Linked DNA regions of Homo sapiens. The gene in region 1 interacts genetically with each later gene. Each region holds a gene or a part of one and is shown on either strand. Other genes may lie near its edges. The genes, in order: EIF2AK3 and NF1.

The links.
Region 2: changes in EIF2AK3 (region 1) and NF1 together harm fitness more than expected from each alone (negative genetic interaction), as found in Homo sapiens cells (one large-scale study listed by BioGRID).

Annotation. Positions count from the first base shown.
Region 1 is NC_000002.12:88,571,965-88,575,464, reverse strand, and holds part of EIF2AK3 (eukaryotic translation initiation factor 2-alpha kinase 3 isoform 1 precursor), read left to right. Parts: exon of another isoform or gene 1-18; coding exon 19-799; exon of another isoform or gene 800-951; intron 952-3,500. UniProt on the Homo sapiens protein: Metabolic-stress sensing protein kinase that phosphorylates the alpha subunit of eukaryotic translation initiation factor 2 (EIF2S1/eIF-2-alpha) in response to various stress, such as unfolded protein response (UPR).
Region 2 is NC_000017.11:31,227,477-31,230,976, forward strand, and holds part of NF1 (neurofibromin), read left to right. Parts: intron 1-46; coding exon 47-130; intron 131-1,548; coding exon 1,549-1,989; intron 1,990-2,358; coding exon 2,359-2,498; intron 2,499-2,783; coding exon 2,784-2,906; intron 2,907-3,365; coding exon 3,366-3,449; intron 3,450-3,500. UniProt on the Homo sapiens protein: Stimulates the GTPase activity of Ras. NF1 shows greater affinity for Ras GAP, but lower specific activity. May be a regulator of Ras activity.

The DNA.
Region 1 (3,500 bases):
TATTTCTCCCACTTTTAGCACAGACTGGCCACTCAGCTCTCCTAGCCCAATGGATGCACCATCAGTTAAAATACGCAGAATGGATCCTTTCGCTACAAAAGAACATATTGAAATCATAGCTCCTTCACCACAAAGAAGCAGGTCTTTTTCAGTAGGGATTTCCTGTGACCAGACAAGTTCATCTGAGAGCCAGTTCTCACCACTGGAATTCTCAGGAATGGACCATGAGGACATCAGTGAGTCAGTGGATGCAGCATACAACCTCCAGGACAGTTGCCTTACAGACTGTGATGTGGAAGATGGGACTATGGATGGCAATGATGAGGGGCACTCCTTTGAACTTTGTCCTTCTGAAGCTTCTCCTTATGTAAGGTCAAGGGAGAGAACCTCCTCTTCAATAGTATTTGAAGATTCTGGCTGTGATAATGCTTCCAGTAAAGAAGAGCCGAAAACTAATCGATTGCATATTGGCAACCATTGTGCTAATAAACTAACTGCTTTCAAGCCCACCAGTAGCAAATCTTCTTCTGAAGCTACATTGTCTATTTCTCCTCCAAGACCAACCACTTTAAGTTTAGATCTCACTAAAAACACCACAGAAAAACTCCAGCCCAGTTCACCAAAGGTGTATCTTTACATTCAAATGCAGCTGTGCAGAAAAGAAAACCTCAAAGACTGGATGAATGGACGATGTACCATAGAGGAGAGAGAGAGGAGCGTGTGTCTGCACATCTTCCTGCAGATCGCAGAGGCAGTGGAGTTTCTTCACAGTAAAGGACTGATGCACAGGGACCTCAAGGTCTGTATTTGTGGAGCATCACCCTTGGGGTTTCAATCTGACGTTTTGTGATTCAGAGCAGTACTTGCAGTACTCTGAAGGATCCTTAAGAGTTGGGGAGAGTAAAAGCATCTGAGAGCAGAGGTCTGAGAAAGTAGCCTCGAAGGGGCCTGCTGCAAGAATAAGAAGTCTTATGTCTGAAAACTTTAGGCAAACCATGCATTCATTGTCTTCAGTAATGTGTTTGTGTTCATTTTACTGTAAAAGGTATTCTCAGTAGTCCAGGTGAGGGAAAAAAAAGAAAAAAGAATCTTTAGGTAAAATCCACCATGAGCAGATATAGCCTGTTTTTTTGTTTGTTTGTTTGTTTTTGTTTTTCTATGGTTTTGAGTAACCCTGACACCAATACCTCCAGGGCTCTGAAGCAGCATGGTGAAAGGGATCCGAATGGAAGGAGAGACATGGGTTCCTTCATTAGCCAGCTTGAATTGGGGCAAATCTCCACACTTTTGCTTCTTTTTCTGAACTGTTTAGACTTTGGGGGAAGGGGTAAGAAGCCGAATGGGGAAAGGTAGCAAATAGTTAACAGATGACTGTTTACAGCTCTAAAACCTTGGATTCTATTTTCAATATATTCAGTAGTGAATTTTGCAGTAATATAATATGCAAAATTATTAAAGAGTCTTACTAAAACATGACATTTCCGTAGTAGTGTTTCTAAAAATAAGTACATGGAACTTTTATTTAACTAATTTCCCACATTCCATATACTCTTAGCCATCACCAGTAGATGTGGAGTGAATGTATAAATACTTTTCTGATGAAAGTAGCTTAAAGTCTTGATAGATGTGGATCCATTTTAAGTCTTTTCAGACTTAAAACAGACTTGTTTCAGGCACAAAAGTAGCTATTTGGACACAAGTTATTTTCTTCTAAAATCAGCAGTAGGTTTTCAAATTCTTGGGTATATTTTAAGAGTTTTAGGGTAACAAGAATAGGAATTAGAAATAATTCTTATTTTTTAATATAATTGTTATTTAGTCATATAAATCATTATGCTTCAGTGATTTTGACGTGGGCCCAAACTGATTGCCAAGAATTGTTCTGCACTGAATGAAAAGTTCAGAGATGAATTATTTGGTTGGATTGGAGAAGACAGTTTACAGGAGACCACACACCCCTAATTTGAGAGAATACTAGCAGTTAGGTTTGAATATAGTAAACGCTTATCACTAGGTGGGAAACAGCTAGCTGAAATACACATTCTTCTTGTACTTAACACTTGCTGTACACACAAATGCCAACTTGAAAGACAATGAATCATGTTTTCACTAATAATGAATATTCTTCTGCTAATTTTATAATGTAAATGAGATATTGGTAAATATCCATTTAATGCTACAATGTTGTCTAAAGATTTTTCTGTAATTGTCTATGCACCAGAAAAATTGCAAGAAGAAAGTTAATATTCCTGTTAGTTTTTCTAGAAATCAGAAAGTTTTATTCCTTTCTAAATAGAAGACAATTCCTTTTAAAGATTTCTAGTGCGCCACCCCCAACCAAAAAAAAAAAAAAAGCCAAGATTTTTGTTCCTGGGTGAAAAAGCTGTACATTTTGCTACGTTCTGACCTAAATCTTTGAGCTCAATGTTAAACCTTCTAGGCCCTCTCCCCCTGTTATATTTTGGTCACATTTTTGTCTTCAGGACTTTGGCTCCTGCCTCTTCAGACTAACTTCTAGTCTTCTATTTTCTCCACTCTGAACTTTTCTCAGTTCCTCTTGATATACACTGTTCTGACAGAAACCTGGTCCTTCTTCATTATTCTCATCACACCTGGATTATTTATTCTGTGGTTTCTATGGGGTATGAACCATATCTGTTTCTTTTACCTGTTATAGTCTCAGTACAATGCCTGAATGTTCTAGATGGTCATACCATTTATTTTGAATTTTATTTTCTTTGCACTCAAAAGTGTTTATACTGACTTAACCAGAAAAGGAAATCTGTTGGCCCACATGGCTAAACTGTTGAGAATTCAGGTAAAGCTTTAGCTGAGATCAAGTGATTTAGCCAGAACCTGGTTTCTGTCCTCCCCATTTCTTGTTTCTATTTAAGTCTTTTGGAGTTGGTGGGGTAGAGGGTGGAGAGAAAAGTATTGCTTTTTCCCACTATCAGAAATTTTATTCTACTTAAACCAAGGACACCTACCCATCCCTCAACAATCCCTAGCCAGGCAATGGGATTCCATGGATTGGCGTAAGCAACTTTTAGAGCATGGATGCCTTCCACACTAACCGTGGGGTTTTGCTGCACAGTCAGCAAGAAGGAAGTTCCCAAAGTAAAGTCAAGATACTTCTGCTGGAAGCACAGGGAGATAGATACTGGAGAGCCAAAAAGCTTGTCTATTATAGGGTTCAGTAAATAACAACTGCCATCAGATGTTGGGAGTTGGGAAGAAAGATGACATTTAATGCAGGATAGTCTATTATTGCCTCTGGTACAAAGTTATTTATTGGAGAGCTGCAGATTATTACCATAGATCTTATACACAATAACTTCATGCTTCCAAGTCAAAATCGTTTAATGGTATTTTAGAGTTTGGGAATGCAATGTTATTTTCTGGCAGTATTTGAAACATGATGAAATTCAATTTCATGAGCTAAATGGCTTCCTTTTTCCTCATTTCAAGGGCTATGAATGGTGGTCATATTACCCGCAGAG
Region 2 (3,500 bases), on another chromosome or scaffold:
AGCTCTAGACTAAGTTGCTTTCAAGTGATAATTGCCTTCATTTTAGGCTTGGGAAGATACACATGCAAAATGGGAACAAGCAACAAAGCTAATCCTTAACTATCCAAAAGCCAAAATGGAAGATGGCCAGGTAAGTCTGTAAAGTTGACTTTTGTCTGTTAACTGATCTGCTAAATATATGTACTTCACTTTGATAATCTTTCAAGAGTCGCTCAGTAAAGTAAACATATAGCTGTGTGAAGACTGATATTTAGTTGTGGTTTATCTAGACCTGTACTTTGTAATGTGGTAGCTACTAGCTATGTGTGACTATTTAACTTAAATTTTAACATAATTAAAATTAAATAAAATTTAGTTCCTCAATCATATAGTAACCACATCGCAAGTACCAGTAGCCACATATGACAATTACTTACTCTATTGGACAGCAGAGAGAGAAAATGTTCCTGTCATCACAGAAATACTGGGCAGCACTGCTAGAGACTGTTTGTTGCAGAGACCATTTCTTTACCTTTTCTTGCTCTTTCTCCCTTCATCAGGGTGTTTCACAGAATTTTCAGAAAAGGAGCAACAGAGGTAGAGATAAATTAACATGGAAACAATTCATTTTGCTATTTTGTTAGGTATTCTAATTAAGGAATGTCTTAGGCAGTAGATTGATCCCATAGAGTAAATGAAATTTTAAAATGTGGACAGTTCATTCAACTATTACTATTGACTATATTATCTGTTACTTTGGAAATTAATGATCAGTTAGTGTTTGTGTGTATTTGATTTGTAATGTTCATATTGCTCTCATTATTAGGTGATTTATAAAAACTGGTTGTTCCTCCATGGTGTTTTTGTCATGCTTAATTACAATAGGAAAAAGTTATATTTTTACGAAGCAAATGTGTGTACCTAATACCTTTATTTGGAGGGGACATGTAGCTTTAGAATGAAAGCTTTTGGGGGGATAACTGTTTTATATAATTACATACCATACAGTTCACCCATTTAAAGTGTCCAATTCAGTGACTGTTTTTAATGTATTCACAGAGTTGTGCAACCATCACCACAATCAAGTTTTAGAACAATTTCATCAATTGAGAAAAAAACCCCGTACCCTTTAGCTATCTCTGCCTCTAACCACCCCCCACCCACTTTCTTGCCTCTCTTCCCCCAACGTCTCTAGCCCTAGGCAACCATGAATCTACTTTCTGTCTTTGTAGATTTGCCTATTCCGGATATATTCTGTAAATGGAATTATAGAATATGTGGGCTTTTGTGATTAGCTTCTTTCACTTAGCATGATGTTTCCAAGGTTCATCCATGTGAAATCAAAACTTTTTAAAAGAAATTTGACACTCGGCTGATTATATTAGTGTATGATAAAAATAGATCAGTGGCTCTTTAAAAATGTATATGGTAATTTTATGGGTTGATTTTAATGTATATTTTACATTTTTTGTACTTTTGTCATGGAAGAAATGTTGGATAAAGCATAATTTGTCAAGTCTCAACTAATTAAGGTTTAATTCATGCTTTGCACAAAAATTTTGTGTTTAGGCTGCTGAAAGCCTTCACAAGACCATTGTTAAGAGGCGAATGTCCCATGTGAGTGGAGGAGGATCCATAGATTTGTCTGACACAGACTCCCTACAGGAATGGATCAACATGACTGGCTTCCTTTGTGCCCTTGGGGGAGTGTGCCTCCAGCAGAGAAGCAATTCTGGCCTGGCAACCTATAGCCCACCCATGGGTCCAGTCAGTGAACGTAAGGGTTCTATGATTTCAGTGATGTCTTCAGAGGGAAACGCAGATACACCTGTCAGCAAATTTATGGATCGGCTGTTGTCCTTAATGGTGTGTAACCATGAGAAAGTGGGACTTCAAATACGGACCAATGTTAAGGATCTGGTGGGTCTAGAATTGAGTCCTGCTCTGTATCCAATGCTATTTAACAAATTGAAGAATACCATCAGCAAGTTTTTTGACTCCCAAGGACAGGTAAAGTGTTCTCTTATTTTTCACCTTTCTCTATGAATAGAGTGACTTGTTTGAAATAAGCCTTTTTCTTTCAGATTATTTAAATTAGGTACTCACAGTTTTTAAAAATTTCCAAAAAATTGCAGAAAGAAGAGTCATCTCAATGTAGGGGTCAGCTTGCCTCTTAGGAACTCTGGTGTGTATGTGTGCCTAAGGGTATACGTGCCCTGTGTATGGGTACGAGTGTCTGCGTATATCTGTATGCTTATTTGGCTCTATGCCTGTGGGTGCACTTACTCTGTGTGTTTAGATCAGTCAGTTTCATCTCTCTAGGGGGTCTGTCTTCTGGGCATTGATGGCAAATCATTAATGTATTTGTTCTTTCTTTAGGTTTTATTGACTGATACCAATACTCAATTTGTAGAACAAACCATAGCTATAATGAAGAACTTGCTAGATAATCATACTGAAGGCAGCTCTGAACATCTAGGGCAAGCTAGCATTGAAACAATGATGTTAAATCTGGTCAGGTAAGCATTCTACTGAAATGTAGCAGAAACATTTTAAGAGATAAGAAAAACCTCTTACACACTGATACTGGTAGTAATTGATAAAATAACTGGCCATTCTTTACTGCACACAAACTAGGGTGTGACAGTAAGGTAGCCAGAAGTTGTGTACGTTCTTTTCTAAATAAATATCTTATTGTTTTCAAACTTACATTTAATTCGTTTTACTTGATGACTAAAGTATTTAGAATGCCTTCTCTTTTGTCTATATCTGATAATTTTTTTATTGTTTCTATGTCTATATAGGTATGTTCGTGTGCTTGGGAATATGGTCCATGCAATTCAAATAAAAACGAAACTGTGTCAATTAGTTGAAGTAATGATGGCAAGGAGAGATGACCTCTCATTTTGCCAAGAGATGAAATTTAGGTGAGTTCTCAAAAGAGCAATGTAGGGTCTTGTAAATCTTAATATGTCCAATGAAGTACAGAAAAAGAGTAGATATGCGGTTATTGGTAGAAAGGAGGACATGAAAAGAGAGCAATTTACATGTTTGTTTTTCTCTACATCTCTTCTCAAATTTCCCTAAGCTTTGTGCCTGTGACAATGCTCCCTTTTTCTAAAACTGTGCTATACTTGAGCTAAGAATTTGATTCTATTTCCAATCTGATACCATAACTAAGGGCCATGATGGAGGATAAATATCCATGTTGCTTGTTCCCTTCTGGCTTTTATGTCTGTGATAGCAGTATCTCTTTTATAAAGTCGTCATGTCACTTAGGTTATCTGGCAAATTATTTGCACTATAAGAAATCTTACGTGACTAAAGGTGTGTGTGTGGCTTCAAAAACATTGTTTGCTGTTTCTCTTTTCTCCACCATTCTATAGGAATAAGATGGTAGAATACCTGACAGACTGGGTTATGGGAACATCAAACCAAGCAGCAGATGATGATGTAAAATGTCTTACAAGGTAAAAAAAGAATGACCTTCAAGTATTAGTGGGTTTTACTGTGAGAGTTAT